Linked DNA regions of Homo sapiens: region 1 is linked to region 2. Evidence: fine-mapped expression QTL. Tissue or cell type: whole blood. Region 2 holds a variant in brackets; the other region holds the start of a gene. All regions are shown on one strand. Distances are between the middles of the regions. Region 1 holds the start of OSBPL8 (oxysterol binding protein like 8). Region 2 overlaps LOC105369850 (a long non-coding RNA gene).

Evidence for each region. PIP is the estimated chance that this variant, and not a neighbour inherited with it, causes the effect.
Region 1: OSBPL8 starts here. The variant in region 2 is fine-mapped to the expression of OSBPL8 in whole blood (TOPMed, PIP 0.98).

The regions. Positions count from the first base shown.
Region 1 is chr12:76,553,663-76,570,202 of GRCh38, reverse strand. It overlaps OSBPL8 (oxysterol binding protein like 8), which reads left to right and starts at 10,432. Exons shown (of 24, transcript NM_020841.5): 1 at 10,432-10,806. It overlaps LOC105369850 (a long non-coding RNA gene), which reads right to left and starts at 10,301. Exons shown (of 4, transcript NR_188081.1): 1 at 9,970-10,301; 2 at 7,845-7,908. RefSeq lists a silencer at 10,602-10,791 and an enhancer at 11,202-11,511.
Region 2 is chr12:76,580,588-76,597,127 of GRCh38, reverse strand. All of the region lies in intron 3 of LOC105369850 (a long non-coding RNA gene), which reads right to left. Among named protein-coding and RNA genes, the nearest start is that of OSBPL8, 29 kb to the right of the region's middle. RefSeq lists silencers at 7,773-7,973, 12,923-13,123. The variant C/T (reference allele first, on the strand shown) is at 11,327.

The sequences.
Region 1 (16,540 bases), 27 kb after region 2:
TTGAACTCTCGACCTCAAGTGATCCTCCCACCTCAGGCTCTCAAATTGCTGGGATTGTAGACGGGAGACACAGTGCCTGGCTGATAAGTTTTATTTACTGTAATTTGTTATACTAAGAAATAAGTGTGGCAAGAGGGGACTGGCTGGGAATGCTAACTCCATGTATTGTAAGAGGAGGTCTGGCTGGAGATTTACTTGAATGGAAAACATAACTCTGAAATTTAGTGTTTCCTGGTTGTTAAGGAAGTGGCTTTCATTTTCACATCACATGAAAGATCCTGATACGTACATATTAGGGGTTGTGTAGATTATTACATAAAGCTGCATAATGGCCTGAAGTCATGCCTGCCTATGTATCTTCTATAAACCTCAGAATCAGGCCAGTTGCTACAAAAGCCTTGTTATCAATGAGAGGATGGTAGAGTGTATGGTCTGTGTGTAATTTTTCTCCAACTGGGTGTAGTGAAAATACAGTTAGTAATATTGTATAGAACATAATATTCCCAAAAGGTAGTGACCATAATAGTTTATATTTCTTGAGTTCTTTAATTCTTATAATATTATAAAAGAGTTTTTTTTTAAACTCCTGTTTTACAGATGATTTTACAGATGACAGCCTTGGTGGTAAATGACAAAGCTAGGGTTAGAACTGAGATCTGTCTGATTTTGGTGTTAGAACTCAAACACACTGCACTATACTACTTCAGTGAATCAAATTTGTATTAACTTTGTAATTTTGGTTAAAATGTATTTTGAGGTTTTCTGTGGACCCAATAGTAATACTAACTTATAACAGTTTCTGGGCTATCACTGCGAATTCAATGGAAATCAAAGTACTTAGTTCTTGTCAAATATTAGCACTGAAGAAATAAAACATTAACAGAATATTTCGATTTTTTTAAAACACAGTCACTGCTATTCTAGGCAAAGCCTAAATTTTTATTTGACATTTTTTTTGCTACTTTTTATGAATTTGACAGTTGTGCATTTGGAATCTGTTCAAATTCTATTTGTAGCTGAATCATGTGAATGCCAATGCCAACGAGATCAGTACATCTGCTTCTTAGCATCTCTAGAGTAATCTGTATTTGCAGAATGCTTTATATAAATTTGAACATGCTAACATGCTCAATCAGATTTATTTACCACCAGTCTTATGATGTTAGGCCTTCCATAGTGGTTTAATAGATGTTTGGAGCAAATACCAGGTAGGCAGCATGGGCTGCTTTTGATTTGAACACTTCTACTAAAAAATAATAATAGATATGATAAGGAGAAAATGATTACTGTATTTGGTTAAGGGTAGAAAATAACAAGTAGTAATACTTTCCCATGGAATTGACCGACAGGTATAAAAAAGAAAGTGACATACTCTGAAAGTCTTCTTTTTTTTTCTTTCCTAAAGCAGGGACCCAGTAACATTTTAGAATGTCTTTAGGAAATGAGACATTAAAAAAACAAAAACCATAATCATGTACCATTATCACAACTAAGACAATTAACAATAATTCCTTAATATCCTGTAATATGTAGTTGGTATTAAAATTTTCCTGATTGTCTCATTATATCTTTTTATAAGTTGTTTGAATTGGAATCTGATAAAGGTAAAGATCCACGTATTGCACTTGGTTGATATATCTGGTAAGTCTATTTTAAATCTCTAACAGTGCCCTCCCTTTTACTCTCTTGCCTTTGTTTGTTGCACGAAGGTCATTTTTCTCTGGAATTTTCCCCGCCCTCAGTTCAGATAATTGTATTCTTTTGGTGTACTACTTTAGTAACTTAAGGAAGGGGTGGGGGGCTTAGGACACAAAGAATGTCAGGTCCAAGTCTATTTGCTGACTGCAGAAGGAAGTGGGGAGTATAACAATGTGCGATCATGGGGTGGAGTTGGTGGCCATGTCTGGAAGTGAGCTGACATTCAAAGATAAAGTCTTCAATAGAGGTATATCAATCCCAGTTCCAGGAGGATATTACAGGGATTAAGGATTAAAGGATACAATTAAGGGAATGAGACTGGGAGTCTGGTCTCAGCTGTGCATGTAAGAATACCAGACAAAAGTAAGGCTCCCATAGAAATGGACTGGAAACAACTAGGGGAGAATATCAACAGGGCCTAGAACAGAGGAATGAACGTGACAGGAATGTAGTGGACAGACTTTATTGGAATATAGGGTAGGCGCCTTCTTTTTCCACCATATCACTTCTGGGTACCAGTGTTCTGTAGAGGTAAAAGAGGCACTAAATACCTGGGAGATCTGGCAAAAGACATCTAGGTAGTACCTGTGGTTGGGAGGATTGAGTAGATGGTTGCTACCTGATAATGCGGTAAGAATATACGGCACCTTCACTCCCAGAACAGTAACAATGAGTTTTGAAATACTGCTGGTTTATAGGGTGAGGACTCTTGTTAGCTTTACACTCATTTCAGGAAAGAGGTAGAACAACATACAGATACTTGATAATTTTTTTTTGTAAGTAAGTGTAGGACCCAGTACAAACTGATAACTTATTAAATTGAAAGAATTAATATACAACCTGGTTTATGAAAATTTAATTACTGTGACTTCTCAAGAGTTTCATATACTTGTATAAATACAGGCTGGACAAAGCTAACTGGAATAATCTTGTAATTAGCTAGCAATCTAGTAGCTAATAGGAATACTAGTAATGTATACACTTTTACATATATTAAGAGATATAAATAAAAGTCATTTGGACAGTCTTCTATAAAATTATAGATTTGGTTTTATCAAGAAAATATTCTAGGGTGTGGTGGTTCATGCCTGTAATCCCAGTGACTCAGGAGGCTGAGGAGGGAGATCACTTGAACCCAGGAGTTCGAGGCTGTAATGCACGCCACTGCACTTCAGCCTGGGTGACAGAGTGAGACCCTGATTCTAAAACAAAAACAAAGTAGTATATAAGTAAATATACTTTGAATGATCTCGTGGTTGAGGGGAAAAAAGAGAAAGGTTCTGGTTTAAAAAAAGTAAGGTATAATTCATTTGCATTATACTTACAGATTTGGAAATCTAAGGGATTATGTGTTCTAAGCTTCCCATGTTTAAATAGTCATGATAAACTTAAAAAAAAAACACTCTCCTAAAATTGAAATGAAAAACACATTTACAATTGGAAATTTGTAGTCTAAGTAGCTATCAGAAATGGGTTCTTATTATTATTAGAATTTATTTTGAATTTAGGATGTCCTCTGAATTGAGTTAAAACTCAGTAGTCAATCCTTATACCTGCGCACAAATTTCTAGCTATTTCCCAAGATGGTGTTAAAAGTCATAGCATGCACATAATTTTGAATAGGCAACGTGGGTGGAAAGGGTAGGCAGAGCATTTCAATAAGACTTAATTGTCTTTAACCTGTGAATACATAATTATATAATTTGTTATGATGAACTTTCATTTATAGACTTCTATGGAGGGAATCATTAATACTTCATAGTTAAGTGAAAATAGTATATAATTCTGCTTTTTATTACTCTAAATCATGATCTCCTAAATATATGCTACTTTCTTAGTCTAATTATGTAATACATCATCTTCACTGGTACATTATGTAAATTTGAAATAAGAATGTCATTGTGAAGAAAAACACTTAAAATGCTGTTATTTAAAAAGAGAATACCAATAATATATTAATACAATTTGCCTCTATGGATGAGAAAAGAAGAAATGTATCATGTTTTTGCTTTTAAAATAAAAGGTATGTATCAGATGGAGATAATAGTACTAGTTTGTAAAATACTTTGTCTAATGAGGTCTAATAGTAGGCATAAAATGCAAATTTGGTTGGGTCTATTTCTAATGTTAGATATGTGATTTTTTTTTCTTTAAAAAAACTTATTAAAATAATTTTAACAATACTTACTGTTTGTTTGCATTGTCAATTGTATTTAGATTTAGGCAAATATCTACCACTCTTAATGCTCTTCGTTTATTATCAACTCTCAGACCTTCCATTTGAGTTGATTTTCTTCTTCTTCTTCTTTTTTTTTTTTTTGAGACAGGATCTCTCTCTATTACCCAGGCTGGAGTATAATGGTGTGATCATGTCTCACTGCAGCCTTGATCTCCCGGGCTCAAGCAGTCCTCCTACCTCAGCCTCCCGGGTCAGGACCACAGGCACACATTACCATGCCCAGCTAACTTTTAAATTTTTTGTAGAGATAAAATCTCAATATGTTGTCCAGGCTGGTCTCAAACTCCTGTGATCCTCCTGCCTCAGCCTCCCAAAGTGCTGTGATTTACAGGCGTGAGCCACTGTGCCTGGCCTGGGATCATTTTCTTTTTGTCTGAAAAAAGAAATTTCTTTAGACTTTCCTTTAGCGAGACTCTATTAGCGGCAAATTCTGCTTTTGCTTGCCGGAAAATTCCTTTATTTTGGCCTCATTCTTGAAATAATTTTTTCACTGGGTACTGAATTCTAGGCTGACAGTCATTTTCTTTTAGTCCACTGAAGATATTATTCCACTGTCTTCTGTTTTTCACTGGTTCTGATGAAAAGTCATTTACCTGACACTTTGAAGATTAACTATATTTTTTCTTTGTTGCTTTTAAGGTTTTCTTTTTTGTTTTTGGTGTTCTACAGTTTCACTGTGATATATCTCAGCGTGGTTTTATTATTCTTTAACTTGCTTGGGATTTGGGAGGCTTCTTAAGTCTGTGAGTTGGAGTCTTTCATCAGTTCTGGAAAGTTCACAACCATTATCTTGTCAAATACTGCCTCTGGCCCACTGGCTCTTTCCTTTTCATCTGAAGTCATAATTAGATTTTAGAGCTGTTTACAATGTCCTCCATGTCACTTAAAGTCTCTTTTATATTTTTAATTTATGTTTTCTTTTTTTATTGCATTTAACTTCATCTTTATCTTCCATTTCATTGGCTTGTATTTCTGCTGTGTCAAATGAACTACTAAATTTGTCCACTGAGTTTTTATTCTAATCATTTATGTTTTTCAACTCTTTTAGTTCTATTTGCTTTTTTCAAAATCTTCATTCCTACTTTAGTTTTTTGTTCTCTGCACATATTTTCAAACTTGTCTTTTATTCCTTTACTCATATTTAATATTGTTATTTACAGTCTGTGACCCCTTTTTTTTTTTTTTTTGAGGTGGAGTCTCACTGTCGCCCAGGCCGGAGTGCAGTGGCGCGATCTTGGCTCACTGCAACCTTCACCTCCCGGGTTCAAGCGATTCTCCTGCCTCAGCCTTCCCAGTAGCTGGGATTACAGGCGAAATTTTTGTATTTTTAGTAGAGATGGGGGTTTAACCATGTTGGCTAGGCTGGGCTCAAACACCTGACCTCAAGTGATCTGCCTGCCTTGACCTTCCAAAGTGCTGGGATTACAGGCATGAGCCACCACACCTGGCCCAGTCCGTGACTTGTAAATCCAGGATCTGAAGTCTTTTAAAATTTGTTTGTGCTGTCTTAAGTCTGTACTGTTTCTCACGAATGGTGTCTTATTCTGTGCTTGTTATTTTTTTTTAAATGTGAGCTGCTCATTTTCCTTAAAATTTTATTTATAGTCATTCTTTATGGCTTAAGATGAAGGTGGGTTCCTCCAGAGAGGATTGGTATTTGCTTCTGCCAGGTTTCTGAGAGCATTATCAGTCAAAAATTCATAATTACGCCTAGGTACAGTGGCTCATGCCTATAATCCCAGCACTTTGGGAGGCGGAGGTGGGCGGATTACCCGAGGTCAGGAGTTCGAGACCAGCCTAGCCAACATGGTGAAACCCCTGTCTCTACTAAAAATAAAAAAATTAGCTGGGCGTGGTGGCACGTGCCTGTAGTCCCAGCTACTCGGGAGGGTGAGGCAGGAGAATTGCTTGAACCTGGGAGGCGGAGGTTGCAGTGAGCTGAGATCATGCCACTGCACTCCAGCCAGGGCGACAGAGAATCCCTGTCTAAAAAAAAAAAAAAAAAAAAATCTTAATTATTAGCCTGAAGTTTTTGGGGACCACCCAGCTAGTATGAATTCAAGCTACGTTTTTGTGTGAGAATTGGATTGCAGTTCCAAATTCTCAGATACGATTTTGCTTTTCCCCTGTCCACCAGGTGCCAAGGTTTAAGACGGCTAATTTTCTTTGTAGATTCTGGGGGATGGGTGCCTATGCTAGTAAGCAGCAAGTTTATTTCTAGTATATCCTTACATCAAATTAATAATCCTTGGAATTGCAGTTGTTTGTGTGTGTGTGTGTGTGTGTGTGTGTGTGTGTGTGTGTATAATGCAGGTAATGGGTTTTGTGTCTTTCTTACAAGGTCACGAAAACCAATGCTCCTAGTAACTGGGTTTAGCACATGCCCTTGAGATAAAAGTTGGCTGACTCTGCTAAACTCTAGGTTCCTGCCTTCATTTAGTTTTTTAACTTAATAATTTCTTACCCTATTGTCAGTTAATCAATATATTTAATAAGATTTAAAAAATGTTTTTTCCAGGGATTTTGTTTTCAGTGTGACAAGTGTGAACTAGTCCTTGATATTTCTAGAAACAGAATCCTATATTCTCTTTATACTTTACTATCCAAATTTTCCTCAAGGGATATTTAAGACAAATAATACTAAACAGAAATATTTAAAATCAGTATGTAAATATCTTACATGCAAACATTTTGCATGCAAATTTACAGATTTTATAAAGACTGCTTCTTAACATAAATTTTAGGTGGATATTTACCAAATAGCTGGTTGACTAGTTTGTAGATGTCTGTTATTTATTTTATTAAATAGACAAATATTATTGTTCCACAGTACATTTAGCCTTTGACTCATGAGTTTGTTGGCTCAAATTCACTTTAGATGATTTGCAAGATTATGCTACGCAACAAACAATCTCAAAAATATTTGTGATTCACAACAACAAATATTTTTGTTTTACTCTTGTTTCACATCAGTAGCCGTATGTCAGGAGCTGCAAGTCAGTTGCTTCAGTTCTGTACAGGGTGAGAGTTTCAGGTCTGCTCCATCTATTTTCTTATTCTGAGATCTTATCTGGAACATACCTTTCTCATGGCAGGTGGCACAAGAGTAAGAGATTGACCTGAATTTTGCAATCAAATTTAAAGCCTCTGCTTTGATTTAGCATTTAACATCTGCTCACAAAGCACTGGCTAAAGCAAATCACATGACCAACAAGAATACAAGTCTTCAAAGCTGTGTTGAATACCTTATTTATGGCTGAGGTTGCTCTTAATCTAAATTCTCTTCCAGAAAATGAGGATTTTAGTCTAGAATCCTGATTAGTAATTGTCAGCAACATAATTGTCTAATGGGATAAGCCAAATGGAAAAAAGCAAACAACCTCAAGCAACATCTCTGTCATTCTAGGTCAGGGTTGAAATATACTGTGGGAAAGGCTGTCAAGCCTGTCAGTGCTTAAACTAATTTGGAAAGAACTTCCCATTCTTAGAAATGTATAATTAATAAAGCAGTAGGCAAAAGAGATGAATTCTCATTGGAGTTAAAATCGGATCGTTATAATAAAAAAGCTTTATTTCAAAATGTCATTCTTAAAATCATTGTAAGAGTAGCAAACTTGCAGGGCATCTCTGGGAGTTACTGAATATTTTTCAGTTACAGTGCAGGATCACATATTAGTTTCTGTTTATGTTGTCATTACATTGAAAATGCTAGATTGAATTATCATTCCTGGAATCACAATATCAGATTTGAAAGGATCTGAAAAAATGATTTTTCAACTGTAGTGGATTAATATATTTTTGTGTTGCAATCAGTTGTTAAGTATGTCAAAATCATTAGTTATTCATGACAAGTAACTATTATACTAGTGATAATCAAAGTAGAGAAGATTGTGAAAGATATACTTACATTTGTTTTGCAATATCTTCACTTTCAATTACTTGCATTAGGACTTTCTTTTTTTTGAGTGGAGCTGAAAGAAGTTAAACGTAGGCTGTCAGTAATTTGCATAATCCTGAGTATACCGTGTCTGTTTGTTTCCAATGTGATTGCCATCCACCGGGAAAAAAAAAAGGTGGTTTAGTATCATTTCTCAAACAGCATGTGGTCCTACTTGATTGGAACTTGAAATGCAGGGAGTAATTTATCTAGTCATACATCTCATTAGCTAAGTCTGTAACCTAGGCTTCCTTGCTTCCAGTACATTGCTTTTTCCAACAAATGATCAAATTTTCAAAAGCCAATGTATGAAATTGGGGCTGAGGCAGAAGAGAATTAGGCAAGGCAATTTGCCACCTTTTTCTAATCTTTAGTCTCAGTTTCCAAAGTAAAATAAAAGTACCAGAAAAACGGGGTCCAGATGGTGTATTTTGCATATTATCTATGCTCTAGGAACATTCTTTTCCAAATCTATTTGATTGCAACTCACAGTAAGAAATTGTTTAAATCACAACATAGGACATACTCTCACCTTCCACCATATTTGAAACAAAAAGTTTCAGGAAGCAATTTTTGCCCTTACTAGACATTATGCACTCTGGTATTTTATATTGTATTACATCCTAGCCTATTTCATATAAAAATGAAATTGATTTTTGAGTTGCAGGTTGAAAAACATGCCTCTAGAAAACAGGAGACAAGTTAATCTGTTAACAAACTCCAAAGTTACTAGCTTTGCTGAAATAATGTCACAGAATAATAAACTTCCTTCACATTTATTTGTACTACAGTCTCTCAGGCTTCAGAACAGAACCTGGTAGAATCTTTTCCTCTTTGGAACACCAGTTCATGACAATATCTCAGAGATTCTAAGACTCGTTGTTTCCCAGTTCATGACAATATCTCAGAGATTCTAAGACTCGTTGTTTCCCAGTTCATGACAATATCTCAGAGATTCTAAGACTCGTTGTTTCTGACATGTTTACATCTCTGAATTCAAGATGTGTCTCAGGCCGGGCGCGGTGGCTCATGCCTGTAATCCCAGCATTTTGGGAGGTCGAGGCGGGTGAATCATTTGAGGTCACGAGTTCAACACCAGCCTTGCCAAAATGGTGAAACCTCCTCTCTACTAAAAATACAAAAATTAGCTGGGCATGGTGGCGCATGCCTGTAATCTCAGCTCCTTGGGAGGCTAAGGGAGGAGAATCGCTTGAACCGGGAGGCGGAAATTGCAGTGGGCCGAGATTGCGCCTCTGCACTCCAGTCTGGGAGACAGAGTGAGACCCTGTCTCAAAAAAAAAAGGAAAAAGATGTGGCTTAAAGGTGCCTTACATATCAGCGGTATGGCATAGTTTCATTGGCAGCCTTTGTTTTCTTTCTTGGGTAACATAAAACAATGTAAGTCTATGATTTTTTTAGAGCTGCTATGAAATATATTAATAATAATTATATAGGCCAAACTCTATTGCTTATTCATTTCAATGTATCCAGCTTATCAGAATGCCTTCTGATTTCTTGTTAAGAAAATGTAATGAGATGAGAATAGCTTAAGAAAAAAATCCTTAGTTCTGGGCTACAAGGGAAAATGAGTTATGACCCCAATTTAATTATTACAGAAAGCTTTCTCATTTGCCTTCATTGTGATCAGGGTTTGAGTATGATCTTTATTCTACCTCCCTTACTTCTGTATAGTTAGGATTTCATTAGGCGGCTAGAGGGTTCTTCGGATCATGGCTAAAAAAGAAAGCAAAAGGTTAAGTCCTAGAGTTAAGGAATTAGGAAAAAAAAATTAAGGCATTAGAAAAAAAATCAAGAATTAGGCTTTATTTTAAAAAATGGAACAAACTGTCAAATTCCTGCGTACCCGTTTAAACTGTCACCAACCTAACACACTGTAAAACTTAATGACTGTAAAACTGGCAGCAGGATCCTGAACATAACAAGGAACAAAAATAAGTTTGCTAGGCTGTTTTCATCCCAGCATGATTGAAATACACCGTTTCCTCAAAAAAAAAAAAACCTCTAATGAGGAAAGCAGTAAATTAAATGCCACGGTTAATGTGCCACTAGAAATAGGAACAAGTAGTTTAGTTACCGAATGCTTCTTAGGCCATACACTCTACACCACGATGCGTTCTTTTTTCTGTTTCGCTAAAGCTTTCACCAAGCCTAAGGCTGGAGAGGGGTCCTAACTGAGCCCTGACCAGACCAGGGAGCCCTACTGTGCAATCTCCTCAGGTTAGGAAGGGCCCAGTATGACCGGCCCAGAAGGCCTGGCCGATCAACAGGCGCTGGGCCGACGGTGGTGGGCTCGCTTCCTGAGGCTGCCCTTGGGCATGCGGAAGGGGACTGGCTGGCGATAACACCCTGGCGAAGCAAGGTGGACAGTGACTCCCGCCCGGTTCGAGCCCGCCTAGCAGGGGAAGCAACTCCACCACCGCCTCCGCGCACCGTCACGTGACGGGAAGAGGGCGTGGCCGAAGCCCGTGATCCGGGGGGCGGGCGGGGCAGGGGGAGGGCACTAGAATGTGAAGGATCTTCGCGGTTCTGGGTGCCCAGAAAGGCGGCGACGCGGCGGATGACAACATTAGGCCGCGACGCGCTCCTGGCCAGGCGGCGGCTGTAGTGTTAGCTTTGGACGCCGCAGTAGCCGCTGCCGGTAGCAAGCCGACTGAGGGAAGGTGGGGGTCCGCCCGGGCTGGTGGACCTCGGGGCCGAAAGTTCCCGCCCCGCTCGGGGGCTGAGCCGGCAGTGCCTCCGCGGCCGCTGGGCAGCGCCCTTCGTCCAGGCTCGCGCCCCAGCTGCCGCCGACGACAGCGGCCGAGAGAAGTTGGGGTCTGACTAGACGCTTACGGGGCCTCGGACCCCGGCGCCGCGGCGACCTCGGAGGAACCGGCTCCTTGCGTCCCGCCTCCCTGGGAGCTCCGCACGGGTGAGTGTTGCTCCATTCCTGAGGTTGGGGTGCTGGGTTCGCACCCCTCAGGGCGACTGCGCACCCTTATTGCCACGTTCTGAGCTCGGGCTGTCGGGGACTCCTGGCCACCCCCGCCGAGGAGTTCTTTGGCTCCTTTGTTCCCTTTTGGAGTAGGGGGATTGGAAAGGCTGGCAGGGTGGAGTGTTTAGGGGCCCACAGTAGGTGCATCTGCAGCCTTACAAAAGCCGCGGCAGGGGAACGGGGGTGGGAGGCTGTTGGAGCATTTCGACCGCCCCGGGTGTCTGTCCCTCCTGAAGTTTGATAGGTTGATGGCATGGGCCTCGTTGGGAGCCCCCGCGCCCAGGAGAGCTGGCGCTTTGTCGCTCGGTGCGGTTAAGGCGAGGCTCCTTCTTTCCTGTGACAGCCCCAGAGAAGGCTGTGCCGCGCACCGCAGACCGCACCCGCCTTTGCAGAGCCAAGCGACACGGTGTTGTTCCTCTAAGCCTCAGTTCTCCCGGCCTTCTTGTAACGTAGGAGGAAAGCCAAGCCTTTGCTGTGCTTTTAAATTTAATGTTTGTTTCTAAGCCCTCTCTCAAGAGTGGAATCAGGTTCCAAGGAGCTTCACAGGCAGCATGCTTTAGGTTCATTGAACCACCCACTCAAGACTGGCTGAGGCGAAGCAACAGTATATGCAGATTTTCCATTCACAAAAGTCATTTAACACTCTTCTTTATGAGACACATCTGCGTTGCAGAACGTAACCTAATTTCATTTTATTTAAATGCTTTCTGAAATAATAGGTAACTTGGACAACGTAAACAGATGGGTAAACTTTAACTGATAATGTAAGTATATATGCATTAAATAAAAAATTTAATGATGTTTTTGCCTTTCTGCTGCTAGAAGACTTAAATGACGTCTGAGTAGTAATACAGTGTCTCCTGCATGGCAGTTAAGTTTTTCCCAAAATTAGTGCTGCTTTTGAAATAATCCTTTAAAACAGTTTTTGCCTCCCTTCGTATCTAGAGAGAGCAAGAATTGTGGAGAATCGTGGGTGAATTGATTGTTAAATTTTGCTAATTTCCTAGAGTTTCATCTAAACTTGATTTTGCTGAGAGGCTATGATCAGTTTCTATGCTTGCTAGAACCTGTTTTGCAGTGAAATTATTAAGATCATGCTAGTTTTATAAAATAGGTTGGAATAGGAAAAGTAAGGCCATGCAATTTAAAACTGTTCTCTATAAAAGTACAACTAATTTCAAATGTTTGTTACTTTTATTTTTTTTTAATATTAACCGTGTATGGAGTGACTATAATATACCTGCTCAAAGGGCTGAGAAAGGAAATAGATGAAACTTAAGCTACCTTTTGGGTCTTTAATTATGGACATCAAGTTATTGCGGTCACATTCCATGTCAACCGTTTGAACAGCAATACCGTGTACACAGGTGCTTAGAAATGCCTGTTTAATTAAAAATGGCCATGGTTTATTTCTCTTTGATTGAATCATAATAGTTATTGAATCTCTGATCTGTGGAAAGATGCTACTGTATTTTCCTTAGAATGTTACTGCATTTTAAAGACAGTCAAATATGTTTTTTATAACACATTCAGGGTACTTATACATTTGTCAATATTCAGTTCCTTGGTTCATTTAAAAATTGGAAGCCTTAGAAAACACTTTGGGGATAAATTTACAATTGTGTATAATGAATTTATGTTTTAGTTTGCTTTAAGAAAAATGATGAAATTATGAATTTGTAAAATATGCATTACAAAAGGATTTTTTTTTTTTTTTTTTTTAAGACTGTCTCACTCTGTATCCCAGGCTGGAGTGCAGTGGTGCAACTTGGCTCACTGCAGCTTCTGCCACCTGGGTTCAAGAGATTCTTATGCTTCAGCCTCCTGAGTAGCTGGGATTACAGGTGCGTGCCACCATGCCAGGCTAATTTTTGTATTTTTATTAGAGATGGGGTTTCACCATGTTGGCCAGGCTGGTCTCCAACTCCTGGCCTCAAGATCCGCCCGCCTCAGCCTCCCAAAGTGCTGGGATTACAGTCATGAGCCACTGTGTCTGGCGGATCTTTTGTTTAAAAGTATGAATTGCAGAATTTTAACCAGTGTTAGTACATTTCAACTTGGCTTTGGTTTGTAAATAATCCTTCAAAAGTAGATTACTTGAATTAAGGCATTAAAGACAAAGAATTGATACAGTACATAGATCTAGTTTTCTAATATTAATTTGGAAAACTTTTATCCTAATATTATCCTAATAACAATGCCTGAAATGTCATGTTGTAATGTTTGTATTATATTGAAAGTTAAAAACATTTATAGCAATGTTCTTGGAGCATCAGGCAATTCAAAGAGGACATAGGTCCTGCCTTAATCTTACAAATAATGACCTGCAAATAAGACAGAAACACAACTTGAATAAAAAAGCCTTTGAGAGGCCAGGCCCGGTGGCTCACGCCTGTAATGCTAGCACTTTGGGAGGCTGAGGTGGGCAGATCATGAGGTCAGAAGTTCAAGACCCGCCTGGCCAACATGGTGAAACCCCGTCTCTACTAAAAATACAAAAAAATTAGCTGGGCGTGGCAGTGTGTGCCTGTAATCCCAGCTACTTGGGAGGCTGAGGCAGGAGAATCGCATGAACCCAGGAGACAGAGATTGCAACGAGCCAAGATCATGCCATTGCACTCCAGCCTGGGCGATAGAGCAAGACTCAGTCTCAAAAAACACCAAAAAAACAAAAAGCCTCTGAGAAATATACAATTTTTAGTGAAGGTGGCTGGGTACAAGGAGATTAGTAGAAGTGCTTGACTGGAGCAGTTGTGGCCAAAGTATAGCTTCCTTGTGATGAGACACAGGAAGAGATGTCTAGACTCATGTTGTGTGCATATTTCATGGCAGTATGTGGGAAACCCCTGAGAGATTTTAGATCTTTCTTCCCACCTTGGTCCCCATCCCTCACATATCCTCACAAAGTCATAAAATTCTCATGTGGAAGGCGTGATAGAAGGAATTTTTCTTCCTGAAAAGTGTTATCAAGCTTGCAAGGGAGAGAGCTATTTTCGGAGACCTTATAGGGAAGAAATCCTAGTCCTAGAGCATCATATTCTTATACCCTGTTATTTTTACCTTTGTCGAAGATCCAGATAATGTAAATTCTCCATGATAGCAAGGACCTTGTCTGTTTTGCTCACCATTGAATCTCCAAATGTTCAATAGTTAATGAATGAAAAAAGTCTACTTCCAGATATATGACTGGAGAACAAAAGGAGTATCTGATAATGTAGTCCAAACTAAATGCAAGCAGCGAAATGATAAAGGAAGGATGTTAGCTTGGGAGAAGGGGAACAGGTCATTTAATCTGGGAAACTTTCTTGGAGGAGGTGATTCTTGAGTTAGGTTTTGGTGTGGGCTGTGTGTCTGAAGATAAGCAGTGTCTAAGGGGGTAGACAACGTGCAGCAAAGCATTTAAGTCAGACTGAATAAATTATGTCAGATAAAGCACAGTAAGTCTTTTTTTGTAACATTATGAAGAATTTTTATTCTCCCATCTCTATTTTCACCTCTCCCTAAATAAAAAGATTAACTTGCTTTGCAACAGCAGAGATTGACAGTACTTGAGTTTTGGAAGTACGATAAGGGTCAGAAAATTTGAATTGGTGTTCTGACTGAATCTTATACAAGCGTCGTTTCCATCGGCCAATCACTTGGTCTTAGTTTTCTCATTTGTAAAATCAGGATAATAATCCATGATCGTTGGGAGAACAAAGTTATATAATGCATGTGAAAGTGCATACCTCAATATGAATGTGCCTACCTCAATGTGTCACACATAGGAGGACTTCAGCAAATACAAAATTATTAAAACGTTTGTCTGCAGATCTTTAAAACATATTTTGATTCGTTTATCATGAACTCTAATATTTGCTTGACTCATCTAGATGACTCATGGCATTATGTTTAAATTGATCAGAATCAAAATTCTAGATAATTTTCTTTCAGTCAGTTTAATGTTTTCTGGTAGAAATGAGGCCTAATTGTATTACTGCTTAATGTTACAGACCACAAGGAGTGCTAGAAGCCTCAAATTTTTGAAGCTCAAAGTAAGGGATATGTGTAGCTGAAAATCTGAGCCTTTAAGCTTTTTTTCTCTACGTAATTTGTTTTTGAAGAAATTGTCTTTGCCTGTAATGTCATTTATCTATTCATTGTTGTGATGAAATAAGGGGTTTTCTGGTTGTTAAGAAAAAATTTACCAAAAATATTTTCTGTTTTTAGTGATGTGACTATAAGCCATGAAGATCTCTACCATCTGTGTTTTATTATAAAATTCAGTATTTCTTGAGCAAACAAACAGACATCTGCATTATTTCTTATCTAAGCTTTTTGTGCCAGTAGCTGTTCATTTATGAATCTCAGAATTTCATTATACTTTGTGAACTCTTTGTAGTGTTTTTGATCCATGGAGCAGTCTGTCCTTTGTATAATATTTGGAAGAGAATTTTATTATAAAAAGACTAAGAAGAGTCTTGAGCCTTTTTATTATACAAAGACTAAGAAGAGTCATCAAATGATAAGCCAGTTACCTACTAATTTCCATATTCAAAAAGGACTGAAAAAAAGAGGAAATGGTTTCAGAGCTTGACTTTTTTCAAATAAAAAGGAGAAGCTTTTTGATTTAGAGTTTTTGAAAACTTGATAGATTCAGAGGGAAATTGTTATAGGTCATATTAATAGCTAATGTGCGTCAACTGCTATATACCAGGTACTGTACTACTCTAGAAGTACTTGACATGTCATCACATTTGATCCTGACAACCACCCCGCAATCAGGCTATTTTCTTTTTTTTAAACCTGAGCAACTGACAGATTAAATAAGTGGTGGAGCCAGGATTTGAACTAAACCTGAGGCACAGAGAAGTTAAGTAGTAGGTGGTAGAGCCTACTAAAAGGATTTAAACTTGAGGTTTAACCTGACCTTTGACTTTGGAGCCTATCCTTTTAACCATCATATTATATACTGCCTTGTATAATTTATTTGCAGTTGCTCCTCTTGATACGTCTTGACCTTGTGATCTTCCTGAGTCTGTTTTAGTTGTGTCATTTACAAAATGCACTTTACTTTATAAGAAGATGGAATATAGCCTTGATTTTTTTTCTCTCATTTTACTTGTATTTGACTGACATCCTATTTTTAAATCTTAAAAATACTTAGAGTAAAGCAAATATTTATTTTATTGTTCATCCAGTTGCCATTTTCTCACTGGGGAATTTCAGAGAATTTCGGAGTAACTGGAAATTAAAGAACATAATAGATAACAGTATTTAAAGCTAAGTTGTTATAATTAAAAAATAGTTTTAAAGAATAAGGCTGATTCACAGAATTGGTATGCATTTTTTTTTAGTGTTTTTTTTTTTTTTTTTTTGAGATAGAGTCTCACTGTGTCACCTAGGCTGGAGTGCAGTAGTGTGATCTTGGCTCACTGCAACCTCTGCCTCCCGGTTTCAAGTGATTCTCATGCCTGAGCCTCCTGAGTAGCTGGGATTACGGGTGCATGCCACCATGCCCAGCTAATTTTTTGTATTTTTAGTAGAGATGGGGTTTCACCATATTGGCCAGGCTGTTCTCGAACTCCTGACGTAAAGTGATCCACCTGCCTCGTCCTCCCAAAGTGTTGAGATTACAGGCGTGAGCTACCTCCTCTGGCCTTTTTTTTTTTTCTTCTGATACAGGGTCTTG
Region 2 (16,540 bases):
CAGTGTAACTAAACCACAATCTTCTAATATCTGTTAGGTTCCAGTTCTTGTAAATGGTATAAAATTTACAAATAGGCCCCCGCTGAGTATAGCCACTTATATGCCTAACAGGTAGAGAACTGAACTCATCATCTTGCCTCACACCAACTGTTCCTTTTTCTGATTATCTGATTTCTATTAATAGTTCACCATTCTCCTAGTAATTCATGCTTGAAACTGTAATTATTTTTGACAAAAACTTCTTCACCACTGCCTACTGATCTTACTTGCACTCAAAATCTAACTCCATCCATCTCCATTTCTGTGCCTACCCACCTAGTTCAGGCCTCCAACCTGGTTTTCTTGCTTCAAGTTTATTTTTTCCCACCAAATTCTTCCTCCATATAAATCTTAAGCAGACTCTGATATTGAGCCTGTTTCACACCATTACTTCTGCTTCTGCTCAAATATCTCCAGTAGCTCCCTATTGCTTACCAAAATAAACTTCAAGCATTCAACATACTTTATGAGATGACGCTGCAATGCCTTTCTGGCTTTGTCTTTAATTACTCACCGTGTGCATTCTCCTTGAGCTTCCCTAAGCAATCTCCCTACTATTGTTGTTGTTTTTACCTCCATAAATCTGGTATTATTTATTATATTTTGAAAAACTTAAACTCATTTAACCTGTCCAAATAATGTCACCCTTTAAGGCCAAAAGCAAATGCTATCTCTCTGGGAAATGACATAGTAGGTCTGCAGAAAATGTTTTTTTTAAAATAAATAAATAATGTACGAATAAAAGAATAATGAATGAAATTAAGTTCTATCCTGAAGGGCCTGTTTGGTAACAAAAGATCAAGAATTAAAATAGAATCATTAAAAGATTTGTGTGAGATTTGATCAAGTAGATACAAAAAGAGGCAAAGAATCTTTACTTTGATGACAAGAATAAATGGTTAGACATGGGAAACGGAACTAGAACCGAGAATGGAATATGATGGTCATGATATCAGCAAGCAGAAAAGGCCAATGAGAGAGGCGTCAAAGCCAGGATTGGTGAAAACAGCACAGACTCTTCTCAGAGGGGCAAATTGTGTGAAAAGTGGATTGCTACCACATAGGACTCAGATTTTTCTCTTGACCATGGTTCATAAAATGTGGTCTGCAGACCCCAGGGAATTTCCCAGATCCTTTCAAGTATATACAAGATCAAAACTATTTTTACAATAATACCAAGACATTACTTGGCTTTCTCAGTGAGTTGACATTTGCACTATGAAACAAAGGCAATGGTGGGTAAAATTGTTGGTGCTTTAACAGAAATTAAGGCAGTGGTACCAAAAGTGTACTAGTAGACATTGAATTATTTACTGCTATATCCCAGAAAAGCAAGACAGTTTCATTTAATATTATTCTTGATAAAATAGCATGATTAATTTTATTAAATCTCAACCCTTGATTATGTATGTTTTAAAATTCTGTGAGACAAAATGCATAATGTATTCCTGTTGCACACCAAAGTTCTAAGGTTATCTCAAAGAAAATGATTTTTGTGCTTGAGTCGTGAGTTAAGCCACTATTTTACATGGAAAATTATCTTTACTTGAAAGAATGACAGACAGATAAACTATAGTTATTCAGACTTAGGTATGTGTCAGAACTTTTCTCAAAAATAAGTGATCCCGTCACTTCAAGGAAAACAACTCACAGCGTTTGTTGCCAATGATAACATTTGAGCTTTCAAACAAAATTTAGAATTTTTTAAAACTCATATCTACCTCTATGAATTTGGCAGCTTCTTGATTCTTCAAAAATTTTCTGATGAGATCAGTGGTGACAATAACACATGTGATTTTTTTGGGGTATTTCAACATGAAATCTGTCAGCACTTGGAAGATATGCATAACTCAATGAAGCACTATTTTCCAAATGACTAAATGCATGATGTTGCAAAATAGCGCATGGAATCTTAATCACAGAAAGTTCATCTCAATCTGTTGGTGCTAACTCCAAATGGACTGCTGCTACACAACCACCCTACTTAAGGGTATTCTTGAAGGGAAATTCTCTCAACTGCAGATCTGTAAGCAGTGTACCTGATCAACTACTTTCTATAAAGGAAGAAAAGGCCTGATGTATAGATGTACATGGACCTTTGAATGATGGCAATTGGCTTGGTTGGTTAGTCAGACAGGCCTAGAGGAGAAAGACTGGAAGATGGGAAATAAAAATATCCAAGGAATAAATGTATGGGTAGACCACTGGAGTAGGCTCAAAGTGTGCAGAAATTTGTGTGCTACCTCAATGCCTATCAGAGAGCCTATACTGCAGAGAAAGCACTAAACAACCAAGTAGACAGGACTTGTCTAGTAGAAATCATTCAGTCTCTCTTCTCAGCAATATCTGTGTTTACACAATGGGCCTATGATAATTACATGGCCATGGTGGCAGGGATAAAGGCTGTGAATGATCCAATAGCATGAACTCCCTCTCTCCTGGGCCACTGCTGCTTGTCCAGTCTATTAGCAGCAAAGATAAATGCTAAGTCTTCATTATGGCACCATCCCTTAAGAAGGCTAGTCAACCATTCAGTGGGAAATTGATTATATTGGACTCTTTCAACCCTGGAGGGGATAGCAAATTGTACTTATCAGAATTGATACCTATTATGGGTATGCATTTTTCTTCACTGTTGTAGGTACCTTTGTCAGCACCACCCACCGTACAAGAACTTACTGAATGCCTGATTTACTGGCATTGAATTCTACCTATTTTTTTATATCAAAGAGCCCATTTTATGATAAAATAGGTGTAATAATGGGGCATAAACATGAAATTGGCCATCCTAATGGAACAATAAAATAATCTAATAAAGACTTAGCCAAGGAACCCATGCAGGACTAACACTTCAAAAGGATAGGGTATTGTTCTCAAGAATAAGATAGGTGCATTAAATGTATAGCTGATGGCTGGGCACAGTGGCTCACGCCTGTAATTCTAGCACTTTGGGAGGCCAAGGCGGGCAGATCACCTGAGGTCAGGAGTTTGAGACCAGCCTGGCCAACATGGTGAAACCTTTTCTCTACTAAAAATACAAAAATTAGCTGGGTGCGGTGGCGTGTGCTTGTAATCCCAGCTACCCAGGAGGCTGAGGCAGGAGAATCGCTGGAACCCGGGAGGTGTAGGCTGCAGTGAGCTGAGATTGCACCACTGCACTCCGGCCTAAGTGACAGAGTGAGACTCCATCTCAAAAAAAAAAAAAAAAAAAAAAAAAGTATAGCTGATTTCTAGTGGTGTGTTTCCAATAGCCAGAATATACAGGTCCAGAAACCAAAGGGTGGTTGTAGGAATGGCTCTCACCAACACTCCCATTGACCCCTTTGCAGAATTTGGGCTTCCTATCTGTGCATTCTTAGGCTTTTCAGGATTAGAAGCACTTGTTTGGTATGAAGGGGACTTCTATGAGGGCACACATGAAGTCTCCATTGAACTGGAAACTATAACTATCACATGATCATTTTAGATCACTTGTGTCAGTGGACCATCAATGAAAACACTTACTATCTTGGTGGTGATAACTGACCTTGATTACCCATATGAAATAGAGTTGCTGCTACCCAATGGAGACAGGAAGTCCGATGCATGGAACACATAGGATTCACTGAGTTATTTCTTCGTGCTCCATGTCTGGTGATAAGTATAAATGGGTAATTGTAATAATTAAGACTCACTGAAGAGCAAGAATTAGAGTTCAGACCCTTCAGAGATGATGATCTGGTTGCCCCCACCCAGTCAAGCAACACAGACTCCCTGAAATGGTAGCCAGGATGAGACAAACTAGAATAATCTTTTTCACATCCTTTCAGCCTACCTTTTATACCAACTATTGCTATGGCAACCAGTTTTGTGCAACTGTACCACATATTTATCATTTCAAAACCTGTGCTGCTCTGATGATATGGCATGGATGCCAATGAGAACCCACTCTGCGCTTAGGCATGTACAACCTGGAAGAGTAAAGAAGTTAACACTCTCTGGGACAATCTTTGACTGCACTTGTAATCTATTGCTGGATAACAAGTTACCAAATCTAGCAGCCTAAAACAATAACATGTATTATATCCCAGTTTCTGTGGTCAAGAGTACAGACACAGCTTATTTGGATTTTCTGCTTCCAGGTCTCTCCAGGCTAGAGTCAATGCATCAGGTGGGCTGTGTTCTCATTGGGAAGCTCATCTGCTCCCAAGCTCATATGGTTTGCCGAACGAATTTATTTCATTGAGGATATAGGACTGAAAGCTTCAGTGTGCTGGTTGGCTGTCAGCTGGAGGATGCCATTAGCTCCTAGAGTCCATTCAAGTTGCCTGCCATGTGGTCTACTCCATAGGCAGCAACATAGCAGTTTGCTTCTTCATGGCCAGCAGAAGAGTCTACTAGCAATATGAAGTCTTACATAACATAATGTTATCATAGGAATGCCATTCTGTCACCTTTGCCATATTCTATAAGTTAGATGCTTCACAGATTCCTCCCATATTCATGGGATGTAATTAACAGGGGCATTGATATCAGAAAGTGGGGGTCATTGGAGAATCAGCCTAGGTTCTGTCTGCCAGTCTTTCCTCAGGCCCTCCCATATGAAATATATGGTTTCTCCCCTTCCAAGGTTCCTGTATTAGTCCGTTTTCACACTGCTGATAAAGACATACCTGAGACTGGGAAGAAAAAGAGGTTTAATTGGACTTACATGGCTGGGGAGGCCTCAGAATCATGCTGAGAGGTGAAAGGTACTTCTTACATGGCGGCGGCAAGAGAAAATGAAGAAGATGCAGAAGTGGAAACCCCTGATAAAACCCCTGATAAAACCATCAGATATCGTGAGACTTATTTGCTACCATGAGAACAGTATGGGGGAACCTCCCCCATAATTCAAATTATCTCCCACCAGGGCCCCTCCCACAACCCATGGGAATTGTGGGAGTACAATTCAAGATGAGATTTGGGTGGGGACACAGAGACAAACCATATCAGTTCCCAAGAGTTTCATTCATTATAGCATCAGCTCAAATTCTAAAATTTCATCATGTGAATCAAGTCCAGGTGCAGATGAGCCTCCTACGTATAACCTGTTAAGTAAAGCTCCTGGACACAATTATTCTCTAACTATGGACCTCTGAAACCAAGGAAATGAGTTATCTGCCTCCAACACACCCAACATACAATGGTGGGACAGACACAGGATAATAGCTATAGACATTCCAGTTTAAAAATAGGGGAAATGGGTAGTAAAAAGGAGTCACTAGTCTATAGCAGTTTTGAAATACAACTGGATTTATTGGAAGTTCCTTAATTAAGTTTCTAGGCTTGGGAATGATTCTTCATGGCTCTTGGCTCTGCTTTCTGGGTTCTTGGTTCCACCATCTGAGTCATTCTTCCTTTTTCATGGAAGGTAGCATGTGTTTGCAGATGAGTAGTTTTATCAGCCTGCTTTCTGCCAGTAAAATTTTGGAGGTCTGACAGCCTCTTTTCATTTTCTAGTCTTTCTGTCTGTCTTATTCCAAGTTGGCACTGTTTCTGCAGAAATAATTTTCTCAAGAATGTTGTGGTTCTTTCTGTATTTCAGTGGCATTCACTCTTATCAGACAAAGGCCACATCTACAGATTGTTTCAAAAATAATTCCATCTCCTTTAAGCTTCCTAGAGGCTCAATAGTGTGATTGAGAGGATCTGAGGCATACCCTTAGATCTTTTCAAATCTAAGGGCCGTATCTTGAAATACCCCTGAGTACTCTGACCTTTGATCTTTTGGGGGCTTTAAAAAAGATTATAGAGTAACTTCAAGTGCATTTTCTCTAGAGTAGGCTTTTCTGACAGTGCCCAAAAGCCATCTCCAACTGTTAATATTTTTTGCCATCTGGGGAAGATGAGGATTTTTTAAATTATCAAGTCCTGATTCCTTTTTGCTTAATAGTTCTTCTCTCAATTTGTCTCTTTTCTTGAATTTTCCTGTAAGTAGCAAGAAGAAACCAGTTGTCCCCTTCAACACTTTGCTTGGAAATCTCCTTAACTATATAACCAAATTCATCCATTTACAAGTTCTGCTTTCAACGTAATTGCAAGAAATAATTTCACTAAGCTTTACGCCAGTACATAACAAGGATCTCCCTTCTTCCAGTTTCCTATAGCATGTTCCTTACTTCCTTCTGAGTCCTCAACAGCAGTCTTCAATATCCACATTTCTACTGAGAGTTTGTTCGCAGTGATTTGGGATTTGTCTATCATACTTTTCAAGCATTCTTCTAGTCTCTGTCCACTGATCAGTTTCAAAGCCACAGACATATTTTTACATATTTATTACAGTAGCATTCTACCTCTAGGCACCAAAATCTCTATTAGTTTTCCAATTCGATGTAACAAATTAACACAAGTTGAACACATTAAAATAACACACATTTACTATCTCTCTTTCTGTAGGTCAGGAGTCCAGATACACCTTAGTTGGGTTTTCTACTTTGGGGTCTCTCCAGGCTACAGTGAAGGTGTTGGTTGGACCATGTTCCCATCTGAAAGCCTGAAGAAAGAAGAATCTTCTTCCAAACTCTCTCAAGTTGTTGGGAGAATTCATTTCCTTACAGTCACAGGACTGAGAGCTTCAAGATTTTGTTTTGTTTTGTTTCTGTTGGCTCTCAGCTTCTACAAGCCACCTCTGAGTTCTTTGCCACATGGTCCTCTCCGATAGGCAGTTCATAACATGACAACTTGTTTCTTCAAGACCAGCAGGAAAGTGAGAGAGTGAGTCGGCTATCAAGACAGATTCTTACATAATATAACATAATCATGGGAGTGATATCCCATCACATTTGTCATATATTGTAATGCATGTATTACATTACATCATGGGAGTAACATCCTATCACCTTTGCCTTATTCTTCTGGCTGGAAGCAGTTCACAAGTTCTACCCAGTCTTACGGTGAGGGGCATAAAGAAGGTCATTAATACCAGAAGGCAGAGATCATTGGGGGTTACCTTAGGATATGTCTGCCACATTGGGGGAAGGCAGACAATTCTAGGTAGCTATTCAAAGATCCAGAGAAATGAGCCTGAGTTACCTACAACAATGTTCAGATTGATTAATGTATTCTTGAGTTAGCTTTCCTTCCTTTCATGTCTTAATTTTCCTAGCCCCTCACTCCTATTCACTGGGATCTCTTCCCAAAATCAACTATCCGCACAGAAGTTATTGTCTCAGACTCCGATTTCAGGGAAGAAGCCAGGCTAAGATAGCAGAAGAGAATAAACTTGTATAAATGGTATGCTACAAGTTAGGAGGGATGGTAGGCAGGAGGTTCTCCTCCTCAGAAATTAATTACCCCCTACCCATATATTTCTCTACACTATAATGAGGCAGTGCTAAAAGTTCATGGAAGAAAGCATGCTAAAGGTGCTTTCTCTATGCAAATCTCAAGATACAGCATCTTAACTCTCTCTTTCATAAAATTAGAATTGGCCCAAGATACTAAATTGGGCTAGGCTGGCAAGTGGGGTTCAAGTAGTTTCCATTGTAGGGAGAGAAATTTAATAAGTGTAAACCTGGCAGAGCTCAAAAAAGAGCAACAGAAGTACTTGAATACAAGGGATAAAACTATTAAAGAACATTTTTCACAAATAAGCCTTGTTTCTTCAATTATCTCTATTTCCACCATGCCTGCCATCTCAAGTGATGACTATCACTCTGCTCTGGCCAAGTTATATGTCAAATCACAAAGGTGAAATGAGATGACTGTCAGGTCATATGTTTGAGGGGGAGGAATGGAATTACAAAGAAAGGGATACCATGACACTTGGAGAAAGAGTTATGAGGAAAGAAAACCAATGGGGTGCTTAAGAAAAGGGCTTGAGTCAGAGTCAGCTGGATACCATGTCTGACACAGTGAACTATGATAATCCTCACAAAACATTTCTAAAATGATTGCCTTAGGATTGCACTGGCTGCATGGCCAGGGTTCTCATTTCTCATTTCCTTTTCTTAGAATTAAGGTGATGCTCTTTGAAATGTCTAAAGATAGATGACTACCATTGGTAGTCAACCCTGAGGTTTTTTATGTACAGGCCCAGCACTGAGCTAAGTGTTTTGTATGCAATTGCACAACATCTTTATGAGGATAGATGCTATTATTATCTGTTTCTCTAAGCATGGGGAAACTGTTAACCTCAGGGTGTTGAGTAACTTGCCCAACATCATACAGCTAGTAAATAACAGAGCCAAGACCCAAGACCTAGGCCCGCATTTGCTGGCTTAAAAGTTTAAGCTTTTTGCTTTTTTTTTTTTTTTCCAGTGGTGCTATCTAAGCTTACTGCAACCTCTGTCTCCCAGGTTCAAGCAATTATTCTGCCTCAGCCTCCCAAGTAGTTGAGATTGCAGGCATGCACCCCCATGCCTGGCTAATTTTTAAATTTTTAGTAGAGATGGGGTCTCACCATGTTGGCCAGGCTGGTCTCGAACTCCTGAACTCAGGTGATCCATCTGCCTCAGTCTCCCAAAGTGCTGGGATTACAGGTGTGAGCCACCGTGCCTGGCCCCAAGGTTAAGCTTTTAACCACTGCATCACACTGCACCTCAGGTTTCAAGATAGGGAAACTCAATTTTTAAAAATATTTATAAAGCATTTACATTTTTTCCATATCTCATTTTATAAAGTGTCTTAGCTAGTAAGCTTAAAAATTATTTTCTTCGGCCAGGCATGGTGGCTCATGCCTGTAATCGCAGCACTTTGGGAGGCCGAGGCTAGCAGATCACCTGAGGTCAGGAGTTTGAGACCAGCCTGGCCAACATGATGAAACCCCATCTCTACTAAAAATACAAAATTAGCCAGGCATGTTGGCACGTGCCTGTAATCCCAGCTACTTGGGAGGCTGAGGCAGGAGAGTCACTTGAATCTGGGAGGCAGAGGTTGCAGTGAGCTGAGATCACGCCATTGCACTCCAGCCTGGACAAAAAGAGCGAAACTCTGTTTCAAAACAAAAATAAATAAATAAAATAAAATAATTTTCTTATCAAGAAAATGCAAATTAATCTGCAGTGACAGAGAGTGGATCAGTGGTAACTTGAGGATGGGAAAGTCCCAAGAGTGGCAGGAAGAAGAAATTACAAAATAGCATGAAGAAACTTTCGGGAATGAAAATCAAAATTTGTAAACATATTTATCACTGCCAAAAGTTAAAGAGTCTTGCTCAAGATTAGCCTGAGAGTTAGTAGCAGAGACAGGATAAAAATATAGTTTTTAAGCTTCTTGAACAAGTGTTTTTTTCCTCTCAATTTGGTAAATTATTTCCATATGGTTTTAAAAAGGATATGAAGAGACATAAAATATGACATGAGTATTATAGAAAGAAAATTGTGTTTAGGAATTTTGGGCAGCACTATTCACAATAGCAAAGACATGGAATCAGTCTAAATGCCCATCAATGGTAGACTGAATAAAGAAAATGTGGTACATAGACACCATGGAATACTATGCAGCCATAAAAAAGAATGAGATCATGTCTTTTGTGGGAACATGGATTGAGCTGGAGGCCATTAGCCTTACCAAACTAACACAGGAACAGAAAACCAAATACTGCATGTTCTCACTTATAAGTGAGAGCTAAATGATGAGAACTCATGGACACAAACAGGGGAAAAACAGACACTGGGGCCTACTTGAGGGTGGAGGGTGAGAGAAGAGAGAGGAGCAGAAAAAATAACTTCTGGGTACTAGGCTTAGTACCAGGGTAACGAAATAATCTGTAAAACAAACCCCCATGACATGAGTTTACCTATATAACAAACGTGCACATGTACTCCTCAACCTAAAACAAAAGTTAAAGAAGAAAGGGAGCCTGTGAAGCCCCTCAGTCACTCCTCCTACATCTCATCCTGTTCTCCCACTGATCTAGCTTAAAGTCTTCCTGCTGGAACATTTCACCCTATACCAGGTGGTGGGGAAAAAAATTTTTTTTATTAACTTACGTATCTCAATTGAGCATTGGAAGTCTATTGTGAATTCATCTGATGAAAAAGTTGAATGCATCTCTTCAGAAGTTTATCATTATCATCTGCAATCTACTGAGAACTTTTTAAAAAATGAATCCTGCAATTGTATGGCCAGCAGGGGGCAACTAAATACTTCCCAAAACAGCATCTTGTATAAGAGAACAAGTTAAAATTGGAGACTGTTAGCATTCTTAGCTGTGTAGGAGAGCTGACTTCCTTCTAAAATGATAATTAACACCTAGACACATTCTCACAATACTGAATTTGTGAAGATAATTGGAACAGTTTCCTAAGTGGACAGATTATAAAACCACATTCTGGGGCCTGTATGTGGCAGATTTGTTTTGGCTGTTTTTTCAGTCCACAAGGTTCCTTGCAAAAATTTATGTATTTTATGATGAATAGCTTTGTAAAACTTCTTGTATTATAGAAAATATAATGAATCTTGACTTATTTCTGTAGGTTATTTTAGAATTCTGCTATTTTTACTTAACATTCAAAGATAAAAGTAAATAGGGATTGCAGAGGATCTTGTTCTTAAAGTATAATAAAGAATCATTTCTTAGCCCTGTTTTATAGAACTAATTTTTAAGCTTGTTATATTAGTTAGGGTTGTCCAGAGAAACCAAACCAACAGAATGTGTATACATATAGATATTATAGATATAGATGTTTATTTTAAGGAATTGGCACACATGATTGTGGGGACTCAGTTTCTGCTTGAGTCCAAAGGCAACCTGCTGGCAGAATTCCTTCCTTCTCTGGGGAGGTCAGTCTTTGATTTATGAAGGCCTTCAACCGATTGATGAGGCCCGTCCATATTATGGAAAGTAATCTGCTTTACTTAAAATCCACTGGTTAAAATGTTAATCTCATCCAAAAACACCTTCACCAAAACATCCAGAATAACGTTTAACCAAATATCTGGGTACCACAGCCCAGCCAAGTTGTCAAATAAAATAACCATCACAGTTGCCTATTTCTTTACATCACAGTCTCAAAGTCGTAGGAGATCTATATGGTGAAATAGCTCAACCCTCCTCCAGATGCAGCTGCAATGCCTGGCAAAGAGAAAGCATTTAGCAAATATATGCTGATTTGAATTGAACTGAATGTATATGAATTGAATTAAATATCCCTAGTGGTGGCTAGGTTCTGCCAGGCTTCCAGTGCGGTGCTGGGAGGTAATGGAAGATAGAAGTTAGGCACAGGCTCTGGAGTCAGATAGGTCCATATGCTGAGGCTCCCCTACTTACCTTATATGTACCTTTGGATGAATAACTTAATTTTTCTAAGCCTACATTTCTTCA[C/T]CTATATAAAAACAACAGTCATAATAGCTATTTATGCTACATATTGCTTTGTTAATCAATATTTACTTCTCTTTCCTTTCTGGCCACTCAGTGGATTGACTGTATTCCTCAGCGACCCTACAACTGAATGGAGCCATGTGACTTGGTCTGGCCAGTGAAAACTGTAGATTTTACGTGTGTCACCTTCAGGATGTGGCAGTAAAAGGTCGATATGAAATTTTTTTCTTTCCCGACTGTGGCAACCATGGAAAAAGATTCATCTTAAGATGGCAGCACCACAAGGTTGAAGCTGCCTGGATTATCACGTTGTTGCATGGAAGACAGTTGCCTGGAGAGTTGCCTGCAGCCAGAGCTAACTTTTTGTTAAACATTTGCTTTTTCTCCCAACTGCAGCACAACCTAGACTATTCTCATGTATTGTCTCACAGAGTTGTTTTGAGGATTCAATCAGATATTGTTTCGCAGGAAACTGCTCATTTGACAAGCCATAAGCACTCAAATGTTATAATTATGATATTTCTTTGCCTTGATCATTATAGCAATTCAAAACTCAAACAATAAAATTAGAGTACCAGGTAACTTTTGTTTAAAGTATTAGTATTCTAACTCTTTAAACTTCTCCTCTGAACACTGCCTTGCACACAGTAGGCATTCATAAATAAACAAAAAAAATTTTTTTTTTTTGAGACAGGGTCTCACTCTGTCACCCAGGCTTTAACATGGTGCTACAACCAAGGCTCACTTTAGCCTTGACCTCCTGGGCTCAAGCAATCCTCCTGTGTCGGACTCCCAAGATACTGGGATTACAGACATAAGCTGCCACACTTGGCTGCTGGGATATTTTATTCCCTTATTGTTAGACTGGCAAGATTTAAGTTTATTTCTTTTGCTAGACCTAGGTTCTCATAAAACAACTACTTTTGGTTAGAGTTACCTATTAAAAAATGTATTACTATCCTGTCATTAATGGGGCTTAGGCAGTGATAGCTGCTCACACATCTTAACTCTTCCCTGAATTCAGACCCAATTGATAGGAAGCCAAAAAGATAAAATACCAACTTCTCGGCTTGGCATGGTGGCTCATGACTATAAGCCCAGCACTTCAGAAGGCCGAGGTGGGAGAGTTGCTTGAGTCCAGGAGTTCAAGATCAGCCTAGCATAGGGAGACTCCATCTCTACAAAATGTTTGAAAAATTAGCCAGGCATGTGGCATATGTCTGTAGTCCCAGCTACTTGGGAGACTGAGGTAGGAGGATCGCTTGAGCCAAGGAGGTAGAGGCTGCAGTGAGCAGTGATATTATGCCATTGCACTCCAGCCTGGGTGACAGAGTGAGACTTCATTTCAAAAAAGCTTCCTAAGATAAAGCTGATTGGATGTATTATAATATACAACCATGACCAGGTTTTTCAATATTTCTTTTTTTTTTTTTTAGACGGAGTCTCACTCTGTCACCCAGGCTGGAGTGCAGTGGCGTGATCTCAGCTCACTGCAACCTCTGCCTCCTGGGTTCAAGCAATTCTCCTGCCTCAGCCTCCCGAGTAGCTGGGATTACAGGCACCTGCCACCATGCCCAGCTAATTTTTGTATTTTTGGTAGAGACGGGGTTTCACCATGTTGGCCAAGCTGGTCAAATACTTCCTAAGTCCAAATGGGTGATGACTCGCCACAGGAGAATTTGAGTCTGCACGATGGATAGACTTGTGTAGAATCACTGTTTCTGCTTGGTGAGATCAACAGTAGAAAGAATGAGAGTTAGGCCTCAGGCCTGTTCTAGAAGACAAGCATAGGCCCTAATCCGTGTGTTTTTAGTTTATGACATATATTGAGGAACTGAGCAGAATATAATTTCTTGTGGGTGGGAAGATTTGAAAAAGATGGCAAGAAATGGCTTGGGTTTTATGTTTTTCTCCCCAAATCACCAATTAAATACAAAACTCCTTCCACTTGGGGAAAGTGGCAGAAAGAAAGATGAAATTTCCTCTTGACTCTATAGTTCTGAAAGAAACATATTTCTATTTTAAGAGCCAGGTAGGAAAACTGTGAGGCAGAGAAGATGGTTCCTTTTAATATAAACAAATAAATTATTGTTCTTGTGGTCTGAATGTTTATGTTCCCCCAAAATTCAAATGTTGAACTCCTCACCTCCAAAATGATGGTATTGGGAGGCGGGGCATTTGGGATATTATTAGATTATAGGGTTATTTCCCTCATTAATAAGATTACTGCCATTATAAAATGGGCCTGAGAGAGAACCCTCAGCCCTTCCACCGTGTGAGGTTAGAATGAGAAGACAGCTGTCTATGAGGAAGTAGACCCTTACCAGACACTGCATCTGCCAGTATCGTATCTTAAACTTCTTAGCCTCTAGAGCTTTGAAAAATAAATCTCTGTTTTTTATAAGCCACTCACACTATGGTATTTTGTTATAGCAGCATGAATGGACTAAGATACTTGTGATATTCTTGTAAGTTTTTATGTTCTGAAGTTACCTTATAATTATATAAGAAATAGGGTTTTTATGATATACTAAAAATCAATTAATTAGTACAAAAATTAAAAGTATCAAGAAGAAGTCACATATGCTAACATTTTTAGTGATAATTTTTCCTAACTTCCTCCCTACTTTTTGCTGGTAATAAAGTTTTCCTAATTTTTACTCATAATAAACTAATCCACAGGAAACATTCAATAGCAAATCATGTATAAATACTTAGCATATACTATGTGCAAAATACTTTGCCAAATGAGGGGATACAGACATTTAAAAAAATCAGTCCTGATCTTACAGTCTAGGGAAAGAAACAGATTTCAAAAAATATATTTACAATATGGTGTGTTAAGCCATTCACAGTCCAATGAATGGACTATGACAAATTACCTGCTTAATATCCATTTTCTGCTTCTTCCTTAGTAACAGAAATCCAATTCAAGTTTGGATGACAACGTAAACTTAAAAATATCCTGTCTCTCTTGCAGCTAAGAGTGACCTTACAGATAGCACATTTCTTTTTAAAGAAGTAGAAATCTCCCAGGGATTTTGGAATAAGTTGTGTCAATTCAAGTTTCTTGATTTAGGCACTATCCTCCCTTTTATATTTAAAACATGTTTTGTGGCAAGAACACTTAACATGAGATCTACTCTCCTTTTTTTGAGACAGAGTCTCACTCTGTCACCCAGGCTGGAGTGCAGTGGCACGATCTCGGATCACTGCAACCTCTGCCTCCCAGGTTCAAGCAATTTTCCTGCCTCAGCCTCCCACATAGCTGGGACTACAAGCGCCTGCCACCACGCCCAGCTAATTATTGTGTTTTTAGTAGAGACGGGGTTTCACCATGTTGGTCAGCATGGTCTTGAACTCCTGACCTCGTGATCCACTAGCCTCGGCCTCCCAAAGTGCTGGGATTACAGGCATGAGCCACCGCGCCTGGCAGATTTACTCTTTTAACAAATTTTTTTTTTTTTTTTTTAGACGGAGTCTCGCTCTGTCACCCAGGCTGGAGTGCAGTGGCACAATCTCAGCTCACTGCAACCTCTGCCTCCCAGGTTCAAGAGATTCTCCTGCCTCAGCCTCCCAAGTAGCTGGGACTACAGGCACCTGGCATTTTTTTTGTATTTTTTAGTAGAGACGGGGTTTCACTGTGTTAGCCAGGATGGTCTCGATCTCCTAACCTCGTGATCTGCCCGCCTCAGCCTCCCAAAGTGCTGGGATTACAGGCGTGAGCCACTACACCTGGACTCTCTTAACAAATTTTTAAGAAAATAATACATTATTGAAATTGTACAATGTTGCACAGCAGATCTCTAGAGCTTATTTACCTTGCTTCACTGAAACTTTATGCCCATTAATTAGTAACTTCCGATTTCCTCCTTCCCCCAGCCCTTGGAAACTACCATTTCACTCATTGATTCTATGAATTTGATTATTTTAGATATCTCATAAAAGTGGAACCATGCAGTATTTATCTTCCTGTGACTAGCTTATTTCACTTAGCATGATGTCCTCAAGGTTCATCCATGTTGTCTCATATTGCAGAAATTCTTCTTTTTAAAGGCTGAATAGTATTCTATTGTATGTATTTGCCCACTTCATCCATTCATCTGTCAATGAACATTGAGTTTATTTCCACATTTTGGTTATTATGAATAGTGCTGCAATGAAAATAGGAGTACTAATATCTCTTTAAGATCTTGGTTCCAATTCTTTTGGACAAAGACCTAGAAGGGAGATTGCTGGATAAATGGTAGTTCTACTTTAAGTTTTTTGAGGAACATCCAGACTATTGTTTATTTTGCTTTTGTTGCCTGTGCATTTGGTGTCATATCCATAATATCACTGCCAAGACCAAAGTCATGAAGCTTTTAACGTTTTCTTCTAGGAGTTTTACTATTTTGAGTCTGATGTTTCTAATCTATTTTTATTTTTATTTTTTTAAGAGACTGGGTCTTTCTATGTTGCCCAGGCTGGTCTTGAATTCTTGGGCTCAATTGATCTTCCTGGCATAGCCTTATTTTTTTTTCTTTTTCTTTTTTTTTTTTTTTTTTTGAGACAGAGTTTCGTTCTTGTCGCCCAGGCTGGAGTGCAATGGCGCGATCTCGGCTCACCGCTACCTCTGCCTCCCGGGTACAAGTGATTCTCCTGCCTCAGCCTCCCGAGCAGCTGGGACTACAGGCATGCGCCACCACACCCAGCTAATTTTGTATTTTTTAGTAGAGACGGGGTTTCTCCATGTTGGTCAGGCTGGTCTCAAACTCCCGCCTCAGGTGATCTGCCCACCTCGGCCTCCAAAAGTGCTGGGATTACAGGCGTGAGCCACCGTGCCCAGCCTGCCATAGCCTTCTAAGAAGCTGAGATTATAGGCACCACCACTTAGACCACATTTGGAGTTTACTCTGTGGATGGCGTTAGATAAGGGTCCAATTTCTTTTCTCTCTTCTTTTTTTTTTTTTTGAGACGGAGTCTTGCTCTGTCACCAGGCTGGAGTGCAGTGGCGCCATCTCAGCTCACTGCAACCTCTGCCTCCTGGGTTCAAGCGATTCTCCTGTCTCAGCTTCCCAAGTAGCTGGGACTACAGGCATGCACCACCACACCCAGCTAATTTTTGTATTTTTAGTAGAGATGGGATTTCACCATGTTGGCCTGGTTGATCTCAATCTCCTGACCTTGTGATCCATCTGCCTCGGCCTCCCAAAGTGCTGGGATTACAGGTATAGG